Regions from separate parts of the Homo sapiens genome. Here all the other regions are linked to region 1. The links come from fine-mapping of genetic effects on gene expression. A gene starts in region 1. Each other region holds a variant in brackets. All regions are shown on one strand. Distances are from middle to middle.

Region 1 (8,181 bases):
TCTCCCTCTTTTCTCCTCTGGCTCTGCCTGGCTCTCCTCTGGCTCTGCCGAGGGGGTGGTTTTCAGCCTGGGCCCTTGCAGATGTGTCTGTGGCAGCAGGCCACACAGACCGCAGCGGGCTGGGCAGCGTCCTGAGAGACCTAGTGAAGCCAGGTGACGAGAACCTTCGGGAGATGAACAAGAAGCTGCAGAACATGCTGGAGGAGCAGCTCACCAAGAATATGCACTTGCACAAGGCAAGTGTGGCCTGCCAGCCTACCCATCTGTTCACCCAGCCACCTGCCTACCCAGCCACATAGCCCCTGGGTCATCTGCCAGTCCCCTTGCCCACCCACCCAGCCTGTCCTCCCAGCTATCCTCCTACCCACTCATCAACTACTCCATCATGCTCTCATCTTCCACCCTCTCATCAACTTATTATCCATTCATTCCTTCCATGTACCCGCTCATCCATTTATCTACACATTCACCCAACCATTTGCCCATCTGTCCATCTACCCAATCTACTACTTACTTATCTCATTGTCTACCCCATGTCCTGCCACCCATTTCTTGACATATCATTCTCTTATCTACTCATCAATTGCCCCTTGTGTTACCTTTCACCCACCCAGTTACCTGCCTGCCCACCTGTTGATCTCCATCTGTCCTCTGGACAATTCATTCGTCCACCAATTTGTCTACCATAGATCCCCCATGCCCATGGGTCCACACACACATCTTTCTGCCCAAACTGCCACCCAAGGACTTTCCCCATCTCTGAGAGTTAGAAAGGGGTCAGACCCAGCTCCTGCCTTTGAGAAGCAAGCTCACACTTAGAAGAGCAGGTGGCCAGAGTGGTGGTGTATCCTGCAGCAGCACCATGCCACAGGAGGCATCCCACTCCCATTATCTGTAGCTCCCCACCCATCCTCATGACTTTTCTGAGCCCTGCCCACTGTTGGGGGTGCTGTGAGCTTCTCCAAGTACCTTCTCATCCCAGGCCAGACACAGCTGAGCATTGATTAATGAAAGGGTGTGAGGGAAATCACAGATGATACCCTACGTTTGGCAAGGGAGCAGCCTGTCCCCTTCTCTGGCCCCTGATGGTTCATTTGTTTCTTAGGATATGGAAGTTCTGTCCCAGGAAATTGTGCGGCTCAGCAAGGAGTGCGTGGGGCCTCCTGACCCAGACCTAGAGCCAGGAGAAACCAGCTAAAGACCTGCAGGCTGCACCCACCTCCTCCCCTTCCTACCCCCTAGGATGCTATTCCCTTGGGCTGTGGTGGAAAAATGAGGGCTGGAGCCAAAATCAAATAGCTTGGGAGACTGGACATTAAAGGGGCTAGAGGCCTGATGGTTAGTGTTAATGATCCTGTCTTAGGGCAGAGGCCACCAGGGAGTGGGGATCCTGAGGGAAGGGGCAGGGATTTCTCCTTCTTCTTGGTCCTGGCTCCCAAGGGCTTCTGTCTTCATCTCTGCATGAGCTCTCCTTCCCAGAGACCAACTCTTTTTATTTTATTTTATTTTATTTTTTAATTTATGTCTGGAGCCTGGCTACTCTGCATTTGGGATTGGGGATGCTGGGTGGGTGTGTGGTCCATGTTCAGCGTTCTAGCAACACGTGTGTGTGTGTGTGTGTAAAGGCTATGCAGCCAAAATACCATCTGGCCAGACGGGCCCACCCACTGACTGTCTCGTCTCGTTCTTTTCAACCAGGAGGAATATGCTGGGGGCGGGGAGGTTTACACCATTGGAATAGGGAGAGAGGTCTCTGGCTGCAACGTTACTCTCTTTTCCCCACCCTCATCCAGCCTGTCTCCATTTACTGCTGACCAGCCCCTCAAACTGAGTGGAGCTGAAATACCTGCAGATATGTACATGGGTAGACATGTATGGGATTGTGGGTATAGATGAGTAGACAGATGGGAGGATGGATAAGTGGTTGGATGGACCGATGGATGTATAAGTGAACGGTTGCATGGACTGATGATGGATAGATTGGGAAATAAATGGATGGATGGATAGGTGGTTAGATGAATAAATGGGTAGATAGATTGGTAGGTGGATAGAGGATGGATAGTAGAGATGTAAATGGACAGATGGATAATAGGTCTATGGACAAATGGGTGGATGATTTAGGTAGACAGGTGGATGGATGGGTTTATGGACAGGTTAGGAGTAAATGGACCAATGGTTGGGGGAATGGATGGATGGGTAGATGAGCTAATGAATGGGAAGGGTAAAGAGTGGGAGAAGAAATGACAAGTGGAGCTATGTATGGACAGAGATGGGCAGAGGATGTCACCCTGCATGTGTTCCGGGTGGGAAGAGATGGGCAGAGGATGGATACATACAGATAGATTGGCAAACAGCCAAATGGGGTGAACTTACAAATGGATGAATGAGTGGGTGGGTAGATTAACGACTAAGTGGACGGGTGGGTGGAGGGATGGATAGAGGAATTGATTGTGTGGGTGGGAGAATGGGTGGATGGGTAGGTGGAGGAATGGATGTAGAAATGGACAAATCAGGAGTGTGCCAAATGGGCAATTGGAAGTTTACACGGGTGGGTAAATCTTGGGTGAAAGGCTAGGCCTGGCCCTGCATTACAGTGCCCCTGTCATCACACTCCTTTAATTAAGATTAAGCATCCCTGGTGTGAGCTGTGTCCAGTGCTATCACCTTTCACATCATGTAATGCTCCAAATGACGCTATCAAGTTGGGATAAGTCTCTCCATCTGACAACTGAGGAAACAATGCAAGTCACTTGCTCAAGGATGCAGCAAGTCAGTGGCAAAGCTGGGGTTTGAACCCACCCATAGCCAGCCAGAGGCATTCCATAATCAGTGCTCCTGCCATCCAGAAGCAGAGCCCTCTAGCGGAGGAGGTGTGATTTGAGGCCACTGGATATGGACAGATAAGAGAGACTACCCCCTCGGAGTGGGGCCTGCCTGAGATGGTAGGGGGGTGGGACCTGGATTGTCCCCCTCTACATTCCCTTTACCCTCATTTCATATCTAAAAACAGGAAGTCCCGTGCTCCAATCCCACAGCCGAAGTCTTAGAGCTGGGGCTGTAACCCATGCTGCGCCCCTCAAGGGGGCGGCTTCGGAAGCTTGGCCATCTAGAGAAACACTCCCCAGCAATTACCCCCGACTCCTGGCTCTCCTGCCTTTCCACAGTCTGGGGGGCAGGGAGGGGACAGCGCTGCATCATTCCCTGTGGCACTCCGCTCTGGGGCCATTAACAGACGCCTTCCCATCGATCGGATCTGCTAAGTGCTGCTGATTCAGGCGAGTGGGGGTGGGGGCCCCTGGGGGCAGAGCGGGTAGGAGCTGGGCAGGAAGAGAGGGGAGTCCAGGAAGGAGGTGGAGAGAATTGGCGAAGTTCCCTGCCACCCCCATTTTCCAGATGACGCGACTGAGGCCCAACCAGCTTTGTAGGAGGCGGAGTCTCCCCAGGGTCCCTCTCTGGCTGTCCTAGGGGAGGGGGCTCAGGGAGCCACGAGGCCCCTCCCTGCCTCTCCATCTCCCGGCAAGCTCAGAGGGGCGGGGAGAGAGAGCCAGAGGAGGAGGAGAACTCAGGCAGCTCTGCAGAGGGGGCCAGGAGCTCGGGTGTTTGGTACCCCCAGCCCCACCGCTGTTGCTGCTCCTGCAGCGGGGACACAGGTGAGGACGCCCCGAGAGAGAGGGGGAGGGGGACCACCACTAGCGCTGTCCTCATCCTTCCCTGGTCCAGCCCCCACGCCCTAACCCATCCTGGGATAGTCCCCAGGGGTCCCACTGGACCTTGCCCTTCCCAGGCCTCCTTCCAGGGACCCCGCACCCTCCCCCTGCCTATGCCACCTTCTCTCCTATGCCTGGCTGTGGTTGCTTCTCTTCCTCCTGCTGCCGCTGCTGCTACTGCCACTGCCCAGTACACACCGCCAGCCCCTCGGGGTGTGGTTTCCCCAGACCTGCCCCCAACGGTGGGACCCAGCCTTCTCCCGGCGTCTCCTGCCAGCTTCCTGCAAAGCCCAGGAGCCCCCCTCCCTGGAGACACACCCAACTCCCTTTCAACACCCCACCCCCCTCTTAATCCCATTTTGGGGTTAACCCCCTTCCTCTTATTTAGTCTTCATAGATCCCCTGGGTGCTCTGGGATTGTGCCCAACTTCCTAACATTTGAGTCCCGGCCCTTGGAATTCCCCAGGCCCCTTTTTCCTCCCTGTAGAACTCCTGAGAGTGTCGACCAGGCTTTGTTGGCCCGTCTAGATACCCACCTCCCCCAGATAACTCTCAGCCTCTCAAAAAATAACCCAGCCCCCTGTCTACCCCTTTAGATAACCCCTTCCCCTCTCCAGCCCTACTAGGAGGCTCTGGCCTCTCCTTTCTTCCCCAGAACTCCTGTAGAGTATAGACACCCCCCCGGGCTATTCTTGGCAACTCTAGGCAGTCCCAAGACACCTTTCAGCCTCTTTACAACCTCCTGGATCCACAGCCACCCCTCAAGATGCACCAGCTCCCTTTCCAGATCCATGAGGGGGGTCTAACCCTCTTATGCTTCCCCTAGAAGTCTTGAGGGTGTGGACAACCCTCCTCACCTGTCTCAGCCCCTCTAGAACCCCCACTTCCAGGCACTCTCAGTCTCTTTCAAGCACCTCTGGTCCCATTTCTACCCCTCTGGATGCCCCAGTCTCCTCTCCACCACTGCAAAGGAATTCCAGGCTCTTCTGCCTTCCCTGAGACTCTTGAGAGTGCAGAGAATTCCCCACGTGTTTCTTGGCCCCTCTAGACGCCCCCAGACACCTCTCAGGCACAGGCTGACTCCTTTAGAATCATCTCAGTCTCTCTAAACCCTCCCTCAGCTCCTTCTTGGCCCCATCCCCACACCCCTTTTCTGCTCTTCTCCATGTCCCCAAGGCCCTTCTCAGTCCCTCAGAACATTGCCCAGGCCCCTCCTAGGTTCTGTAAATGTCCCCCAGACTCCTTCCCATCTCTTTAGTTCTTCCTCCTGGTTCCTCTTGGCCTCTCTAGACACCCCCAGTTTCCTTGTTTGGGTGGCTCAAGGTGTCTCCAAGCCCCCACCATCCTGGAGACAGCCACATTCTCCTAAACGCCACCCTCACTAAGTCTCCCTGGGCTTGGGGAGTGGCACGATGGCGGCAGGCCTGGCCACGTGGCTGCCTTTTGCTCGGGCAGCAGCAGTGGGCTGGCTGCCCCTGGCCCAGCAACCCCTGCCCCCGGCACCGGGGGTGAAGGCATCTCGAGGAGATGAGGTTCTGGTGGTGAACGTGAGCGGACGGCGCTTTGAGACTTGGAAGAATACGCTGGACCGCTACCCAGACACCTTGCTGGGCAGCTCGGAGAAGGAATTCTTCTACGATGCTGACTCAGGCGAGTACTTCTTCGATCGCGACCCTGACATGTTCCGCCATGTGCTGAACTTCTACCGAACGGGGCGGCTGCATTGCCCACGGCAGGAGTGCATCCAGGCCTTCGACGAAGAGCTGGCTTTCTACGGCCTGGTTCCCGAGCTAGTCGGTGACTGCTGCCTTGAAGAGTATCGGGACCGAAAGAAGGAGAATGCCGAGCGCCTGGCAGAGGATGAGGAGGCAGAGCAGGCCGGGGACGGCCCAGCCCTGCCAGCAGGCAGCTCCCTGCGGCAGCGGCTCTGGCGGGCCTTCGAGAATCCACACACGAGCACCGCAGCCCTCGTTTTCTACTATGTGACCGGCTTCTTCATCGCCGTGTCGGTCATCGCCAATGTGGTGGAGACCATCCCATGCCGCGGCTCTGCACGCAGGTCCTCAAGGGAGCAGCCCTGTGGCGAACGCTTCCCACAGGCCTTTTTCTGCATGGACACAGCCTGTGTACTCATATTCACAGGTGAATACCTCCTGCGGCTGTTTGCCGCCCCCAGCCGTTGCCGCTTCCTGCGGAGTGTCATGAGCCTCATCGACGTGGTGGCCATCCTGCCCTACTACATTGGGCTTTTGGTGCCCAAGAACGACGATGTCTCTGGCGCCTTTGTCACCCTGCGTGTGTTCCGGGTGTTTCGCATCTTCAAGTTCTCCAGGCACTCACAGGGCTTGAGGATTCTGGGCTACACACTCAAGAGCTGTGCCTCTGAGCTGGGCTTTCTCCTCTTTTCCCTAACCATGGCCATCATCATCTTTGCCACTGTCATGTTTTATGCTGAGAAGGGCACAAACAAGACCAACTTTACAAGCATCCCTGCGGCCTTCTGGTATACCATTGTCACCATGACCACGCTTGGGTGAGTGTGGACTCTGCGTTGGGGGCTGCCCGATTACACTCACCCTTTCTGTAAAATTAGGAAGTTTAAAGGAATGATCTCTTTCTTTCTTTCTTTTTAAATGGAGTCTTACTCTGTCGCCCAGGCTGGAGTACAGTGGCAAGATCTCAGCTCACTACAACCTCTGCTTCCTGGGTTCAAGTGATTCTCCAGCCTCAGACTCCCAAGTAGCTGGGATTACAGGTACACGCCACCATGCCCAGCTAATTTTTGTATTTTTAGTAGAGACGGGGTTTCACCGCGTTGGCCAGGCTGGTCTCAAACTCCTGACCTCAGGTGATCCGCCCGCCTTGGCCGCCCAAAGTGCCGGGATTACAGGTGTGAGCCACCGCGCCTGGCCTCTTTCTCTTTTTGAGCTTCAGTTTGCTCATCTGTACAAACTGAGGGAGCTGGACTTAATTCTTCAGATCCCTCCCAGCTCTGACAATGCCTTGATTTTCTAGGTCAGGAGACTTGGGTTCAAGGATTGTCTTAGCTGCTCTCTTTCTGTTGATGTCGTTTTCTCATGGCCTCAGTTTTCCCCTCTGTAAAATGGGAAATGCTGATCCCTTCATCATCTAGAGAGGATTCAATGACATCATAGTTGTGAAAGTTCTCTGAATGTTTCTGGTGCAGGATACATAGGTGTTGGCTTTCTAGCACCTTTTTCTGTTTTGGGGACCCATGTCTCCCAACCTTCTAGAATTGTCTGCTGTGTGGGGCACTACTTCTGAGCCTTTGTGATTCCTTGATGTTTCCCAGAACAAGATGTTTTCAGCATTTTTATTATTATTATTTTTTTGTCGATCCCTGCAGAAGAAACAGAGTTGGGATAAAAGTATCAAATGGAATCATCGAACTCATGAGCTTTCCAAAGATACTGTCTAGGGCAGATGCTGTGATCCTTCTCTAAGTTTCCATCACTGGGATTGGGTATACAGTTGGTGCTCAGTATCTGTTGAAGGAATGACTGAATGAATTGGGTTTGCTCAGTTTCTTCATAGAGGTACAAAAAAAAGTTGATTTGGGGTTTCTAAAGCGTAGAAACCCCAATTCTGGTTGGAGGTCCAGGATCAGACTGACAAACAAATACTGAGCGCTGACAGTGGGCTGGAACTGAGTATTTTGATGGCTTTTACTCTATTCAAGTCCTCACAACAACTCTGTGATGGTGGATGGCTGCCCATGTCTCACAGTTGAGGACACGCTCTGAGATGACACATCACAGAGCCAGCAATGGCCAAGTTGGAAAGACTTTTGAGCAGAGTCCTGAATGCTTAAAATGAGTGAAAATACCGAAATAAGGAACAGCCATCCTAGGGCACAGCCTGAGAAAAGGCTTAGAGGCTGAAGACTGCAGAGGCTGTGTTTCTCTGGAGGAGTTCTGATTGGTTCTGCGGTCAGAACAAGAGTATGCAGTGTGATCTTGGGCGAGTCAGTTACAGAATCTCCCTGATCTTCAGGGGAGCTCTCTGTGAACAAGTTAGTAAGGTTGGCTCTGCTCTGTCTCTGTGGGAGGTGGGTGGCATGGAGAAAGGCAGGAGGGTTTCAAGGCTCCTCCCTGTTTTGTCATATGTGGACAGTTTTCAAGGATTCCCCTATAGGGGAATGAAAAGGGGTCCTACCTAGAGCAGGTAAGACAGAGGCAGCCAAAACCAACAAAACACTCCTCCCGGGACTTGAAGCCCTTCGGCTGGCCTGTGGTGCTGGGACTCTCTCCCCAGGAGGCTGTGTTCACTGCCTGTGACTTCCTCATGCTCCCCTCTGCTTGGTTTTCATAGATTTCTAGCTGACTCAGGTGCTTGGTATGTAGCTTGGACAGGGGCAGCAGATGGTAGGGGTTGAGGGCCAGGCCCATTTCTCACTTGGCCACCCAGCATTTTACAGAGCAAGAAACTGAGGGACTCAGAAGGTTTGAGTGCC
Region 2 (8,181 bases), 790 kb before region 1:
TTTTATCAGAAAAAGATAATAAATTTTAGCCACTGGTGAAAATTGAAAGGATCATGTTCTGAGCTGCAACGTTGTTGATTTCATAATATTTCCCATCCCTCTGGAAACTCCAGAAAACTAAGTTACTATTCCCCCTTCCACCGAAAGTAAGAAAAATCAGAACCACTGAGATGAAACATCACACCACCCAGTTGGGAAGGTAACCTCAGGAAGTTTCTCCAGAATTCAGTACAAACATTTCAGATTTAATACTTTGCTAATGGGACATTATTGTGTTTCACACAATGAGTGGTGTAATGATGAATTACAGCTGCGGGACTGACTGCCCTCTGCTCAAACCCTTTCAGAAGGAGTACTGTGGGGCCTCCTTCTGGTCACAATGTAGGATATTGGAATTCATTCCTAGAGTTTGAGGACACCTGTTGAGACAGAGAGAAAGAGAGAGAGAGAGACAGAGAGAGGAGGAGAGAGAAAGAGAGAGAAGGAAAGAGAGAGAAACAGAGAGACAGAAGGAGAGAGAAAAACAGGAGAGAGAGAAAGAAAAAGAAAGAAAGGAAAAGAAAGAAAGAAAAGAAATGGAAAGAAAGAAGAGAAAGAGGAATGGAGGCAGACACCTTCCATCTGCAGTGCCCCAAGCGCTTATCATTGGTTTGGACACAGAGCAAGCATAAGTGTTTATTAAGACTTGGCCACTGAGGGCAGAGAGAAGTGAACTGGAGATGGGAATGGAGGGCAAGATGCAGGAGGTGCAGCAGGGCAAAGAAAATTAACTTCTCCCTTTCTTAAATTTAGCCCCAAGAGGGCTCCACTAACTTAAACCTATTTCAGTCTTATGAGAAATTTCTATTTCATTCTAATCATGACAGACCACTATACAAACTCAAATTGAGGGACTGCCTACAAAACACCTGACCACTAAAATGTCAAGGTCATGGAAAACAAGAAAAGACCGAGGAGCTGTCACAGACTGGAGACATGATGTGACTAAGATGATAAATACCATGGGGAATCCTGAATGGATCCTGGAAAAACTGATGAAATCTGAATAACTTTTATAGTTTGGTTAATAATATTGTATCAAGATTAATGCGTCACATTTGATAAATATTTTCTGGTTATATAAGATAAGGTTTCCTTCTAGACCCTCTCTTTCCTGTCAGCTTCTACATTCCTCTGAGAGCTCAACAGTGACTCTTAGAGGCCTCTAGCCGCAATAACAGCAAATCAGTTCAGCAATCTGAAAGAATGAGCCATTTGGACCTGCATTTTCCAAATTATTGAAACAAACTCTTTTGGCAGGCACTATTTTTAGAAAAGTAGTATTCATTTCTCTGCCATCTTATAAAGAGCATGGAAATCACCACTTAATTCTTCATTGTCCATACCTATTAGTATAAACATCTGCTTTTGGGCCAAGTGCAATGTCTCACACCTGCAATCCCAGCACTTTGGGAGGCTGAGGTGGAGGATCACTTAAGACCAGAAGTTCATCCTCAGATGCCCATCCAGAGAAGGGGAGCTGGTGCTATTCAATGGGCTCCAGATGGAAATGTGCCTGAGCTGCAGACTTCAGGGGAATACTTGAATAAGTTCAGTGAATTTTTGTCCTTCTCTTCATAGAAAGCTTGACTTGCTTTGTCATGTTTCCACGTGTAACCAAAGCCAGATGAAGAAATACAGACACTCTACCATACAAACTCTGTAACCTACACATCCAAATTGAGTAAAACCAAAGACTGCAGCTGGGGCCGCCAAGAAGCTGCAGGAAGAAGTAAGCAAGCAGGACCTCAGCAGGCAAATTTACTGGGGTCAGGAGCACAGGCTTGAGATAGGGCATCCCCAGCCCCCACCCCACTAAAAGACACCAGGTCCAGGAGATCTTAGGGCTATGCTTCTCAGCACCACGTGGTTGGCTCAACTCCTTTGCCCTGGCTGCAATGCCACCACATTACTGGCCCACATCCATGTGACGCTAAGGCAGAAAGATGGAATGTAAAGGGTATGGGATTTGGATACAGACAGACCTGGATTTGCGTTTTAACTCTTCCATGTATGCGCTGCTGCGCTTTATGCAAGTTACTGAACAGCTCTGTGCCTCGGTCTCCTCATTAACATGAAGATGATAGTGCTACTCTGCCACAGGGTTATTGTGAGGATTAAAGATAAGGCACACAAAGCTCTCAATAACAGTGCGTAGGACATAGTAGTCATGGCAACCAATAAATGGTAGCTGTTTTTCTCTGTTCTGTGTGAAAAAAGCTGGACACAAAAGGTCACATATTGTATGATTTCATTTATATGAAATGTCCAGAACAGATAAATCCATAGAGACAGAAAGTAGATTAGTGGTTGCCAAGGGCTGAGTGGAGGGTGACTGCTAATGGATACAGAGTTTCTTTTAGGGGTGATGAAAATGTTCTAAAATTAGACAGTGGTGATGGCTGTGCAACATAGTGGACATACAAAAATCACTGAATTGTACAAAGTATACAGTTGTAAATTTTATGGCGATGTGTATTATTTCTTAATCAAATAATAATTAAAATGATTAACAAGGTAAGTTTTATGGTATGTGAATTACGTCTTAACTAGAATTTTTAAATGACCTATACTTGTTTGTGAATATGAATAGAAATAAATATTTCTAAAATGTGGATAATAGTAGTACCTGACTCATAGGGTTTTTGTGAAAATGAGTTGATTTTTAAAAAATATTTAGACTAATGCTGACACACTATAAAAGCTCAATAAATGTCAGTTATAATTATTACTGTTATTGTCATTGTCATGGTCATCATCATTTTCATCACAGGGAGCATAGTTTAATAGTCAAGATCAATGGGGTTTGAGTTAAACAGACCTGGTTTAAAATCTGATTTCATACTTGGCAGTATATATTATAATAATTAATGATGTAGCTACTGGCTTCAGACTATCTTCATCAAAATCCTCACTCCACCATTTACCATTTGATTTTAGGCAAGTCTTCATCTTCAACCCCTCTGTGCCTCAGTTTCTTCATCTGTAAAATGGGGGTGATAATAGTTCATACCTAATGTCATGCCATGAAAATCGATTGATGTATCCATTAGAATGCTGATATGATTTGGCTCTGTGTCCCCACCCAAATCTCAAGTTGAATTGTAATTCCCAGTATTGGGGAGGGACCTGGTGGGAGGTGATTAGATCATGGGGGCGGATTTCCCCCTTGCTGTTCTCTTGATAGTGAGTTCTCATGAGATCTGATGGTTTAAAAGCGTGTAGTGCTTCCCCCTTCGCTCTCTGTTCCTCCTGCTCTGCCATGTGAAGAAGGTGCTTGCTTCTCCTTCAACTTCTGCCATGATTGTAAGCTTCCTGAGGCCTTCCCAGCCATGCTTCCTGTCCAGCCTGTGGAACTGTGAGTTCATTAAACCTCTTTTCTT[C/A]ATAAATTACCCAGTCTCAGGTAGTTCTTTATAGCAGTGTGGGAACAGACTAATACAGGTGCTTTTGGCTTCAGGTTTCAGAAACCTGGCTCAATTCGTCTGAAACCAAATAGGAAAAAAAGAAGGGATAGGAAAGAGAAAATAATTAATTGAGAAAACACAATACAAATCAAGAAGGGAAGGAGAAAGAAAAAGAAAGGAGAGAGAAAGACAGAGAAGGGTTTAGAGAGGTTTATTTTCAGTAGCCATTAGTTTTGGGATGCTTCCCAGAGACTTCTCTGCCCAAATTTTCTTCCTGGGTTTCTAAGATTATTCTTCTTATGTTTTTAGTATAAACTGCTTCAAACTCTTTTGGTAATAGGCAGGCACTAAATAAAACAATACTACCTTGCCTTATAGGCTTGTTGTTATCTCTGCTCTCTAGGAGTATAAATCTCATGGAGAAGACTGTGCAAAAAAAATTTTTTTTTTTGAGACAGAGTTTCACTCTTGTTGCCCAGGCTGGAGTGCAATGGTGCAATCTTGGCTCACTGCAACCTCCACCTCCTGGGTTCAAGCGATTCTCCTGCTTCAGCCTCCCAAGTAGCTAGGACTATAGGCATGCACCACCATGCCCGGCTAATTTTTATTTTTAGTAGAGACAGGGTTTCGCCATTTTGCATAGACTGGTCTCAAACTCCTGCTTCAGCCTCCCGAGTAGCTGGGATTACAGGCGCCCGCCACCACACCCAGCTAATTTTTTTTGTATTTTTAGTAGAGACAGGGTTTCATCATGTTGGCCAGGCTGGTATCGAACTCCTGACCTCAGGTGAGCCGCCCGCCTCAGCCTCCCAAAGTGTTGGGATTACAGGCGTGAGCCACTGCGGCTGGCACAAAATATTTTAACAATGTAACATTTCTGCCCAGTCAATGGGATCATTCGGAAAGGCATTTTGCTTCTTTTTTCTTTTTTAAGCAACAGGGTCTTGCTCTGTCATCCAGGCTGGAGCACAGTGGTACGATCATAGCTCACTACAGCCTCAACCTCTTGGGCTCAAGGGATTCTCTCACCTCAGCCTCCCAAGTAGCTGGGACTACAGGCACATGCCACCAAGCCCAGCTAATTTTTCTATTTTTTGTAGAGATTGGATCTCACTATACTGTCCAGACTGGTCTCAAACTCTTGGCCTCAAGCCATCCTCCTACCTTGGCCTCCCAGAGTGCTGGAATTGCAGGTGTGAGCCACCTCGCCCAGGATAGAATGGCATTTTGAGTAGGCCAATATGTGCAGACATATGCCCTAAAAGGTTTGGTTTCATTGAAGTAATACAGCAGGAAGCCAGGAACCAAAGCCTTGAATCAGAGATGAGATTCCATCTCTGGGCCTTTCATAACCATGCATGGCTCCAAATTCCCCATCACCAAAACAGAAAATTAAAGCAGAATGTACTCTCCAGGTGGCCCTCTAAGTAGGAAATAAAATCTTATCACCCTACTTATGATTATAGAATCAAAGATTGGATGGGTCTTTAGGAAAGATGAACTTATTTTCCAGATATGCAGACAGGGACCCTGAAACTCAGCGAGGGCAGCAGACCGGCTGGGTTCCAACAGGGTTGAACCTACTTTCTAGCCTTGTATTCTACTGTGATATAATACAGACTGATGAATTTGTTTCTCTTTGTCTCTTTCTGACCATCAAAGCAACTGATTTCTACATGAGAGAAGAATATACATGCTGAGAGAAGAGGATCACCTGGAGATATGTACCAATTCTGTGTCCCAGTGAGAAATTTACAAGTATCTGTATAGCTCTTAATGTAGAGATTGGTACTTATCTAACAATGGAAGTTCAAGTTTCTAACTGCTTTCCTTTTGGCCTAATTTGATAAGGATCAGATTAGCAAATCAGAGCAAAGGTGAGATGGGGATGTAAATATTCATTGGCTTCTGACATTTCTAAGCAAGAAAGCCAAGGACTTCTACCAAGCCTGGAGATTGTTTCTCTTAAGATGCCGGGAGGGTATGCTAGTCCAGGCTCCAAGAAACACTGACCCATGTGCCATTTTGAAAAGCCCATCAGATCCACACAATCACAGTAAGAGAAGAACGTTTATTTCTATCCCCTTTGGCTACTGCCTCATTTCCATTCAACCTAGAAAGAGGTAAAAAAAAAAAAAAAAAAAAAAAAAAAATCGGCTATGCTGTGATCTCACTGCGTTGAGTATGGTAGCTTTCACAGGAGTCTTTACCTTATTAAGATGGGTCGGGTAAGGATTGAAATTATCCCAGCTTTCCTCTCTATCACACATTCAATTCAACACTGTGATGAGTTTTCATAAAGGTTTTATAATTCTCAGTGGTATGGTGAATAGCCTTTGGCCTTTAAATCAAATGACAGAAAAAAGTTTCTTCAGGCAGAAAAAATGAAGATTCTATTTCTGTTCCTAGATTTAGTTATCAGTCACCTGGTTTCACATTAAACTTTGATGATAAGTTATTCAATAGCCATGATATCAGAAGTTCTGCTGGCCAGAACAAACTGCCAGTAACTACTCGCATGACTGAGAAAGCACTGCTTCTCATTTCCCCTTTCTTTTGCCCAGGAGATTGTGGTTGTGATCTCCCAGTCCTGCTGGCTCCAATGCCTGCCTGCCTGCCGTTTTTCTTCCTTCCTTCCTAACCAAGTTCTATCTTCCTAATAAGAATACACTAGCATTCCATTAAGAGAGCCAGACAGAGAGAGAGTGAGAGGTAGAGAGAGAAAGAGAGAGGAAGGTTACCAGATTAAAGTTTTTATCAGACGATATCTCCCAAGCAACCTAAAGCTTTTAGTCTGTCAGTCCCTTCCTCACATCTCCAAAGGGCCAGGAGGGAAGGAAGCCCTTCCTACAGCATATTGTGGAACTGGCCCAGCCCAATGCACTTTTAATTCCTCAGGAATAGCATCACTGTCCCCGTTGTTTCCCTGGGAGGTCATTCTACTGCCTATAGCTTCCACTCTACTATGGAATTAATTGTTTCTCCACCAAATTCATAAGTTGAAACCCTAATCCCCAATACGACTGTATTTGGAGATAGGGTTTACAAGGAGGTAATTAAGGTTAAATGAAGTCATACAGTTATTTAACCTCAATTAAATCAGGGCAGGTCCTTAAAAGAAGAGATAACAGAGCTCTTCTTCTTGCTCTTCTTCTTTCTTTTTCCTTTTCTTATTTTTCTTTTTTCTTTCTTTTTTTGTTTTTTTCATTCTTTTTCTTCTTTGCTCACAAAGAAGAGACTATATGAGGACACAGCAAGAAAGCAGCCATCTGTGAGCCAAGATTGGAACCCTCACCAGAACCAAATCAGCCAGCACCTTGATCTTGGACTTCCAGCCTCCAGAACATGAGAGGATAAATGTCTGTTGTTTAAGCCACCTAGTCTGTGATATTTTGTTATGGAAGCCTGAGCAAACTAAGACACACTTCAATTCCTTTCTGCCCATTTCCTTCTCTGTAGTGCCTTCTTACTGCCTGCAAATTACTCTTTGGGGACTTACAGTCCTGAAGCAGAGGCACATTCCCACTTCTCCTAAACAGCAGCTTCCCTGAGCTACACATATTAAATTCTTTTAAGCTCACCTCATTTTTTCAATGATTTTTAAGGCTCTTCTCCATACTTTGTCCAATTTCAAGTAGTACATTACTTATATGGATGACAAATTTCAACTCCATAAACCATCTTGCATGAACAACTACAAGATATAAAAACTCAAACACTCACTGTATCCTCCAGTATGAGTGCATTTGTGCATATGTGCACATAACGCTGGTTTGTTATATATATTTCATGAGTGTCTTAGTCTGTTTTCTGCTGCTATAACAGAATACCACAGACTAGGTAATTTATAAAGAATAGAAGTTTATTTTGCTTATGGTTCCAGAGGCTGGGAAGTCCAAGAGGCTGGTGCTAGCATCTGGTGAAGGCCTTCATGCTTTGTTATCCCACAGCAGAAGGCAGAGGTGAAACCAGTGCTCAAGGCAGAGGGAGGCACCAGGGGCTGAACTCACTTTATAACAACCCACTGTCATAATAACTGACCTGCTTCCATGATAATGACATTAATCTAGTCATGAGAGCAGAGCCAATCACCTCTTATCAGGTCCCAACTCCCAACACTCCTGCATTGGGAATTAAGTTTCCAACACATGAATTTTGAGGGGGACACATTCAAACCATAGCAAAGGGTAAAGGTAAAACATTATGGCCATTTAGGTTTCCTTGATTCTACCCAATTATAAATACCAAGAGAAACCTGAGTTCCACTTCCCCAATCTCATCCAAATATTTCTCTTCAATGAGATTTTGAAAACCTATCCAGGGATTGGTTAAAGATGGCAAAATATAAAAGAAATCAACTTCCTGCATATTTCCAATGGTGAATTTGTTCCATTAAAAGGCGTCAAATGGGAGCATGTACAGGATGATTATTTCTCAGAGTCCTGTGGGAGAAAGCAAGCTGGGGATTCTGTTCATGTTTCCTGCATTTGGACAGAGGCCCTGCTGGTAAGTTCCTCTGCAAGAGATGAACAGAATCCAGTGTTATCTAAATGTCAGACGGGATCATTCTAGAGAGTAGCCCCTTAAACTCTCTAAGAAGAGGAGGTTAAATTCTCTGTCAAAACTTCCATACATTCCACTCCCTCTTCCTCAAAGGAAACCTCAGAGCTGAGGTACCAAAGTGACAGCAAACAAACAGAAGGCCATAAATGCTACCTGCTTCTGTAGCACTGCAGTT
Region 3 (8,181 bases), 520 kb after region 1:
CCCAGGCTCAAGCTATCCTCCTGCCTCAGCCTTCTGAGTAGCTGGGACTACAGGCATGCGCCACTATGCCTGGATAATTTTTAAAATTTTCAGTAGAAATGAGATCTCTCTATGTTGCCTAGGCTGGTCTCAAACTCTTGGGCTCAAGTGATCCTCCCACCTTGGCCTCCCAAAGTGCTCGGATTACAGGCATGAGCCGTATTTATGAAATAAGGTTTTTTTTTTTTTTTTTTGGCAGGGTTTCACTGTCATCCAGCCTGGAGTACAGTAGTGAGATCACAGCTCACTGCAACCTCAACTTCCCGGGTTCAAGTGATTCTCTTACCTCAGCCTCCCAAGTAGCTGGGACCACAGGCATATGCCACCACACCCGGCTTATTTTATTTTATTTTATTTTATTTTATTTTATTTTTTAGATGAAGTCTTGCTCTTGTCTCCCAGGCTGGAGTGCAATGGCACGATCTCGGATCAGTGCAACCTCTGTTCCCCGGGTTCAAGTGATTCTCTTGCCTCAGCCTCCCGAGTAGCTGGGACTACAGATGTGTGCCACCACACCTGGCTAATTTTTTGTATTTTTAGTAGAAACGGGGTTTCACCATGTTAGTCAGGATGGTCTCGATCTCCCGACCTCGTGATCCACCTCCCGACCTCGTGATCCGCCTGCCTCAGCCTCCCAAAGTGCTAGGATTACAGGTGTGAGCCACTGCGCCCGGCCTTTTTTGTATTTTTTTGTAGAGACGGGGTCTCACCATGTTGCCCAAGCTGGTCTCGAATTCCTGGGCTCAAGTGATCCACCCATCTCGGCCTCCCAAATTGCTGAGATTATAGGCATGAAGCACCGCACCCAGCCTGAAGGAAGCTTTTAGATGTTTGAGAGACATTTGCTTATCCTCCCAGATAATTTTTACGCATTTATAAGCTACTACACATATATATTATTTCCCTGCTTCTATTTACAAATAGGGCAGTTGTCTGTAGTTGATTAATACTATATGCTCCTTGTTTCACTGTTCTTTATCCCTTACTGCCACTAAACTTAAGCTCAACAAGCCATTCTTTTTGAGAATAACGGTAGCCTGAAATTCCAGCACCTGGCCTTCAAACTGCAAGTCTTGGCTGGGCACGATGACTCATGCTTGTAATCCCAGCACTTTGGGAGGCCAAGGCAAGAGGATGACTTGAGGCCAGGAATTTGAGACCAACCTGGGCAACATAATGAGATCCTGTCCCTAAGTTTTTTTTTTAATTAGCTGGGCATGGTGGTGTGCACCTGCAGTCTCAGCTACTCAGGGAGGCTGGGGTGGGAGAATTGCTTGAACTAAGGAGTTCAAGGCTGCAGTGAGCTGGATTGGACCATTGCACTCCAGCCTGGGCAACAGAGTGAGACCTTGTTTCAAAAACAAAAAAAAAAAACAAAAAAAACAAACAACAACAACAACAACCCCCCCCCACCAGAAACCTCATACCCATTAATAGTAACTCCCCACTCCGCCCAGCCTTTGGGAACCATGAATCTACTTTCTGTCCCTACGGATTTGCCTATTCTTGGCATTCATATAAGTGGAATCATACACTGTGGTCTTTTGTGTCTGGCTTCTTTCACTTAGCATATTTTCAAGGTTTATGCATGCCACAGCATGTATCAGTACTTCATTAAATCTTCCGATCCATGAAAAATGGGCTATCTTTCCATTTATTTAGGTCTTTAATTTCCTTCAGCAATGTTTTGTAGTTTTCAGTGCAGAAGTCTTACACTTCCTTGGGATGCAAGTCCTACTTAGGGGATTTTAGTAGTCTTTTGGTGCTGCTATGATAGAATACCTCAGACTGGGTAATTTGTATAGAACAGACATTTATTTTCTCACAGTTCTGGAGGCTGGAAAGTCCAAGATCAAGGCACCAGCATCTGGTCAGCGCTTTTTGCTGCATTCTCATATGGCAGAAGGCAGAAGGACATGAGAGAAGCAACTCCCTCCATCTCATTTATAAGGACACCTAATCTCATTAGGGAGAACCCCTCATGGCCTAGTCACTTCTTAAAGACCCTATCTCTTAATACTGTCACATTGACAACACCTGAGTTTTGGAGGGGACACATTCAGACCATACTAGGGATTAAAAATAACATCTTAATTTTTAGCAATCTAGTTCAGATTGATACCAACTTAATTTCAATACTATACAAAACATTGCTCTTATATAGCTTTGTCCACTCCCTTTACTGCCACTAAACTTAAGCTCAACAAACCATTCTTTTTGATAATAATGGTAACCTGAAATTCCAGCACCTGGCCTTAAAACTGCAAGTCTTGACTCATGCCTATAATCTGGGCACTTTGGGAGGCTAAGGAGGATGACTTGAGGCCAGGAATTTGAGACCAACCTGGGCAACATAGTGAGATCCTGTCTCTACACAATATTTATTTATTTATTTATTATTTATTTATTTATTTATCTATTTATTTAGAGACAGAGTCTTGCTTTGTTGCTCAGGCTGGAGTGCAATGGCACGATTTTGGCACACTGCAACCTCTGCCTCCCGGGTTCAAGCGATTTTCCTGTTTCAGCCTCCTGAGTAGCTGGGACTACAGGCATGCGCCACCGTGCCCAGCTAATTTTTGTATTTTTAGTAGAGACAGGGTTTCACCATGTTGGCCAGGCTGGTTTCAAACTCCTGACCTCAGGTGATCCGCCTGCCTTGGCCTCCCAAAGTGCTGAGATTACAGGTGTGAGCCACCGCGCCCAGCCCCAATTTTTTTTTTTTAATTAGTCGGGCATGGTGGTTTGCACCTGCAGTCCCAGCTACTCAGGGAGGCTGAGGTGGGAGAGTTGTTTGAACCTAGGAGTTCAGGGCTGCAGTGAGCTGTGATTGCACCACTCACTCCAGCCTGGGCAACAGAGTGAGACCTTGTCTCAAAAAGAAAAAAAAGCAAGTCTTCATATTTAACAGAAAGAACCCCAAAAAGAGATGAGGGCAATGTCCCTACTCCTAGCATCAGCAGAAGATGAATTTTTCATTTTGATTATTACACTTTTAAACTCCAGAAATTTCTATTTGGTTCATTTTTTATATTTCTATGTCTGTATTGATACTCTCTATTTGGTGAGATATTGTTTCTATACTTTAGTTCTTTAGACATAGTTTCTTTGAGGTTTTTGGACGTATTTTAAATAGCTCATTTAAAGTCTTTTTATTAGAAAACCCAGCATCTGGCTGGGCGTGGTGGCTCACACCTGTAATCCCAGCACTTTGGGAGGAC[A/G]AGGCAGGTGGATCACTTGAGGTCAGGAGTTCAAGACCAGCCTGGCCAATATGGTGAAACCCTGTCTCTACTAAAAATACAAAAAGTAGCCAGGTGTGGTAGTGGGTGCCTGTAGTCCCAACTACTTGGGAGGCTGAGGCAGTAGAATTGCTTGAGTCTGGGAGGCAGAGGTTGCAGTGAGCCGAGATTGCACCACTGCACCCCAGCCGGGGCGACAGAGCAAAACTCTGTCTCAAAATAAATAAATAAATAAAATAAAATACATTAAGAAAAAAGGAAAACCCAACATCTGGGCTTTCTCAGGGATGGTTTCTATAGGTGGTCTTTTTTCTTTATTCTGTGGATGGGTCGTATTTTCTTCTTTCTTTGCAGGTGTCATAATTTTTTATTGAAAACTGGACATTTCAAATAATATAATGTGGCAACTCTGGAAACCAGATTCTGTCCCTTCCCTGGGGTTTCTTGTTGCTGTTTTGTTTGTTTGTTTTCAATGTTTGTTTAGGCTGAGCTCGGTGGCTCATGCCTGTAATCCAAGCACTTTGGGAGGCCAAGGCAGGAGGATCATTTGAGCCTAGGAGTTTGAGACCAGCTCGGGCAACATAGTGAGACCCCGTCTCTTAAAAAAGAAAAAAAAATTGGCCGAGCGCGGTGGCTCACGCCTGTAATCCCAGCACTTTGGGAGGCCGAGGCAGGTGGATCGTGAGGTCAGGAGATTGAGACCATCCTGGCTAACACGGTGAAACCCCGTCTCTACTAAAAATACAAAAAAATTAGCCAGGCGTGGTGGCGGGCCCCTGCAGTCCCAGCTACTCGGGAGGCTGAGACAGGAGAATGGTGTGAACCCGGGAGGCGGAGCTTGCAGTGAGCTGAGATCGCACCACTGCACTCCAGCCTGGGCGACAGAGTGAGACTCCATCTCAAAAAATAAATAAATAAATAAATAAATTAAATTAGCTTGGTGTGGTGGCGCATGCCTATAGTCCCAGCTACTCAGAGGCTGATGCTGGAGGATTGCTTGAGCCTGGGAGATCAAGGCTGCAGTGAGCCGTGTTAGTGCCACTGTACTCCAGCCTGAGAGACAGAGCAAGACCCTGTCTCAAAACACAAGTTTGTCTAGTTTTTTTCCTGAACAAATTCTGTAGTCTCTATTCCTTGTCCTCTGTGGCCACTGAAGTCTCTTGGTTAGCTTAGTGGCCACTAATGATTGAACAGAAATTTCTTTAAATGCCTGGAACCAGTATGTCTCCCAGTCTTTGCCAAGGGGATTTGTGTATGTGTTGGGACATACCTTCTGCACTCAGCCTGGCAGTTTACAACGTTGCCTTATCTTTCTCTTCCTGCTTGCTCAGAGCCTCGAGGTCTGCAGAGGTGAGAGATTAAAGCCTACTTAGTTCTTCTGTGGGCATTCGCCTAGCTGCAGCCCAGGGCGTATGTGTGTGGCCTTCTAGATTCCCAGGCATGTGTTGGAGTTATTCAAGCCCCATTTTCCAGCCTTTCCTTCTTCTTCTTCTTCTTCTTTTTTTTTTTTTTTTTGAGATAGAGTCTTGCTCTGTTGCCAGGCTGGAGTGCAGTGACGCGATCTCGGCTCACTGCAACCTCTGCCTCCTGGATTCAAGCAATTCTCCTGCCTCAGCCTCCTGAGTAGCTAAGATTACAGGTGCACACCACCACACCTAGCTAATTTTTGTATTTTTAGTAGAGATGGGGTGTCTAGTAGAGACCATGTTGGCCAGGATGGTCTCGATCCCTTGACCTCGTGATCCACCTGCCTCAGCCTCCCAAAGTGCTGGGATTACAGGCATGAGCCACCATGCCTGGCCTCCAGCCTTTCCTTTTAAGCTTGCTGGTTGATGTATTGTTTGCCTCAACTGCTATTCACTACCCCAGGTTGTAGCATCAGTTTGAGTGAGGTCAAATGAAGACAAGCCTTTCAAGTGGGTTCTTCCAGGGAACCACCAGACAAGTCAAAACAAACAACTGTAATTCTTTGTGAATAAGGTCCATTCTTTTCTCTCTGGTACTGGTACCTGTACTGGGAATGCAGATCATTATCTTCAGGGCTACCACCAAGCTGGGAGCAGGAGATGGGACAAGGGTAAGTTAAAATACCACAAAGCTTACTGTTCTTATGGAGATTCAGCTGGTTTTTCTCCTTCCTTCCTTCCTTTCTTTCTTCCTTCCTTCCTTCTTTCCTTCCTTCCTTCCTTCTTTCCTTCCTTCCTTCCTTCCTTCCTTCCTTCCTTCCTTCCTTCCTTCCTTCCTTCCTTCTTTTTCTTCCTTTTTCTTTTTTGACAGTCTTGCTCTGTTGCCCAGGCTGGAGTGCAGTGGTGCCATCTCAGCTCACTGCAACCTCCACTTCCCAGGTTCAAGCAATTCTCGTGTCTCAGCCTCCTGAGTAGCTGAGATTACAGGCACGTGCCACCACGCCTGGCTAATTTTTGTATTTTTAGTAGAGACGGGGTTTCACCATGTTGGCCAGGCTGGTCTCGAACTCCTGACCTCAGGTGATCTGCCTGCCTTGGCCTCCCGAAGTGCTGGATTACAGGCGTGAGCCACTCAGCTGGTTTTTCTTGATTAAACATTCCTCTGCTTGTTACAAGCTTTCGGTTAGTTTTCAAAGTTCTGAAAAAGTTGATCCTGACAGTTTTTGCCAGTTTTTTCACTGATTTTTATAGAGGCATAGATTTTTGGAGTTCTCTATTCCACCATTTACTTTGTGTTAGCAACATTAAACATTTTAAACATCATTACTTGACATTAAAAGGTTTAAATTTGATGATAACTTTAGTTTCCATTTTCACATGTCCTTTGATTACTTTAACTCTAATCTCCTTCTCTTTCAGTGTTTGTGTTGTTGTGGCCTAGAACTTTATTTTTGTTGCTTTTTCTTTCTTTTTCCACATGTTCTAATGTGGCCTAGTATTTTAGTACCACTTCAAATTTATGATCCCCAAATGCTCCCAATCAATATTTTTCCAAATGACATCATCTTTATGAACACTGGATTATAATTAAACTACATTAAAGCAGCATGTGTTTTAGTGAATAATTCCTTAAATAATAAAGTAATAGGTCTGGGTGAGCTCACATAAGGAGCATTGATGCTTTTTACCAAAGCTGGAAAATTCTCAGCCATTATTCCTTTGAACATTGTTCTCCATAAATCTTTCTATTCTCCCTTTCTAGAATTTGTGTTCAATATATGTGAGCTCTTTTCATTCTATCCTCCATATCTTTATATTTTCCATTTCTTTTTTGTTTTTTTTTTTTTTGACACGGAGTTTCACTCTTGTCCAGGCTGGAGTGCAATGACACAATCTCGGCTCACTGCAACCTCCACCTCCCAGGTTCAAACAATTCTCGTGCCTCAGCCTCCTGAGTAACTGGGATTACAGGCATGCATCACCATGCCTGGCTAAGTTTTGTATTTTTAGTAGAGATGGGGTTTCACCATGTTGGTCAGGCTGGTCTCGAATGCCTGACCTCAGGTGATCCACCCGCCTCAGCCTCCCAAAGTGCTGGGATTACAGGCTTGAGCCACCATGCCTGGCCTATTTTCTGTTTCTTTATCTCTAATGGTGTGTTTTCCTCAGAGCTATATTTTCGTTCGCTAATTATTTCTTCGTTTGTGTCTAATCTGCAGTTTAATAAGTTTATTAATTATTTAAATCACCATTTTCACTTCTAGAAGTTGTATTTGGTTATTGTGCAGGTGTTCAGATAAGCCTGTTGTTTCTCATCCTGATCTTTCATTAAGAAATGTATTTTTAGCTTGGGCAATATAGTAAGACCCCATCTCTAAAAAAAAAAAAATAGGTGGGTATGGTGGCATGTGCCTGTAGTCCTAGCTACTTGGGAGGCTGAGGCAGGAGGATTGCTTGAGCCCAGGAGTTTGAGGCTGCAGTGAGCTATAATTGCCCCACTGCACTCCAGCCTGGATGACAGGGCGAGACCCTGTCTCAAAAAAAATTGTATGTTTTTCCCTTTTTACTTGGGAATAATATAGATTTATGGGAAATTGCAAAAATAGTACAGATATGTCCCATATACCCTTTACTGAGTTTCCTCTATATTATAGTAGTGTAAAAATACTATAGTACAATATCAAAATCAGGAAATTGACATTGGAGCAATAGTGTGTATGCCTTTTTATCCCATGTGTAGACTCCTGTAACCAACACCGTAATCAAGATACAGAACATGGCTGTGCTTTGTAGACAGTGTGTGTCCCGGGTGGTCCTCAGGCACTGTCAGGAGATTTTGGACTCTCTGAAGATCATCCTTGGATCTTGGGTTAAAAATCTGTATTCTAGTCTGAACCATGGGAAGAAAAAAATAGTCGATCTGTGGTTTTTCTACTTGAAGGACACAATGTTTTCCAAACTAGCACCTTTGCAGAGGTTTGCTGTACTTAGTCGTGGAGCTCATTCTTCAGTGGCTTCTGCTACATCTGTTGCAACTAAAAAAAAAAAATCCAGACCGGGTGTGGTGGCTCACGCCTGTAATCCCAGCAATTTGGGAGGCCAAGGCTGGTGGATCACCTGAGGTTGGGAGTTCGAGACCAGCCTGGCCAACATGGAGAAACCCCATCTCTACTAAAAATACAAAATTAGCCCGGCACAGTGGTGCATGCCTGTAATCCCAGCTACTTGGGAGGCTGAGGCAGGAGAATTGCTTGAAACCGGGAGGCAGAGGTTGCAGTGAGCTGAGATTGTGCCACTGCACTCCAGCCTGGGCAACAAGAGCAAAACTCCATCTCAAAACAAAAAACAAACAAACAAAAAAAACCCGAAGAAAACAGTCCAAGGCCCTCCAACCTCTGACTACATTTTTGAAAGGGAATCTAAGTGTGGTGCGCACAATTACCATCCTTTACCTGTAGCCCTGGAGAGAGGAAAATGTATTTACTTATGGGATGTAG

Direction of the effects. Alleles are on the strand shown, and positions count from the first base shown. SD is a standard deviation of normalised expression in the study named.
For the expression in whole blood of the gene that starts at base 3,547 in region 1, C is the high allele of the variant in region 2 and A is the other (small effect, 0.24 SD a copy in GTEx).
In carriers of allele A in region 3, the expression in prefrontal cortex of the gene that starts at base 3,547 in region 1 tends to be lower than with G alone (large effect, 0.86 SD a copy in GTEx).

What was found.
Region 2: its variant is fine-mapped to the expression of KCND1 in whole blood (GTEx, PIP 0.97).
Region 3: its variant is fine-mapped to the expression of KCND1 in prefrontal cortex (GTEx, PIP above 0.99).

The regions. Positions count from the first base shown.
Region 1 is chrX:48,967,210-48,975,390 of GRCh38, reverse strand. KCND1 (potassium voltage-gated channel subfamily D member 1) reads left to right here and starts at 3,547. Exons shown (of 6, transcript NM_004979.6): 1 at 3,547-6,240. The coding sequence starts at 5,120. GRIPAP1 (GRIP1 associated protein 1) reads left to right here. Exons shown (of 26, transcript NM_020137.5): 25 at 82-236; 26 at 1,106-1,668. The coding sequence ends at 1,198.
Region 2 is chrX:49,754,690-49,762,870 of GRCh38, reverse strand. No RefSeq gene overlaps it. Among named protein-coding and RNA genes, the nearest start is that of PAGE1, 63 kb to the right of the region's middle. The variant C/A (reference allele first, on the strand shown) is at 3,423.
Region 3 is chrX:48,448,330-48,456,510 of GRCh38, reverse strand. It overlaps the pseudogene LOC791096. Among named protein-coding and RNA genes, the nearest start is that of SLC38A5, 18 kb to the left of the region's middle. The variant A/G (reference allele first, on the strand shown) is at 3,261.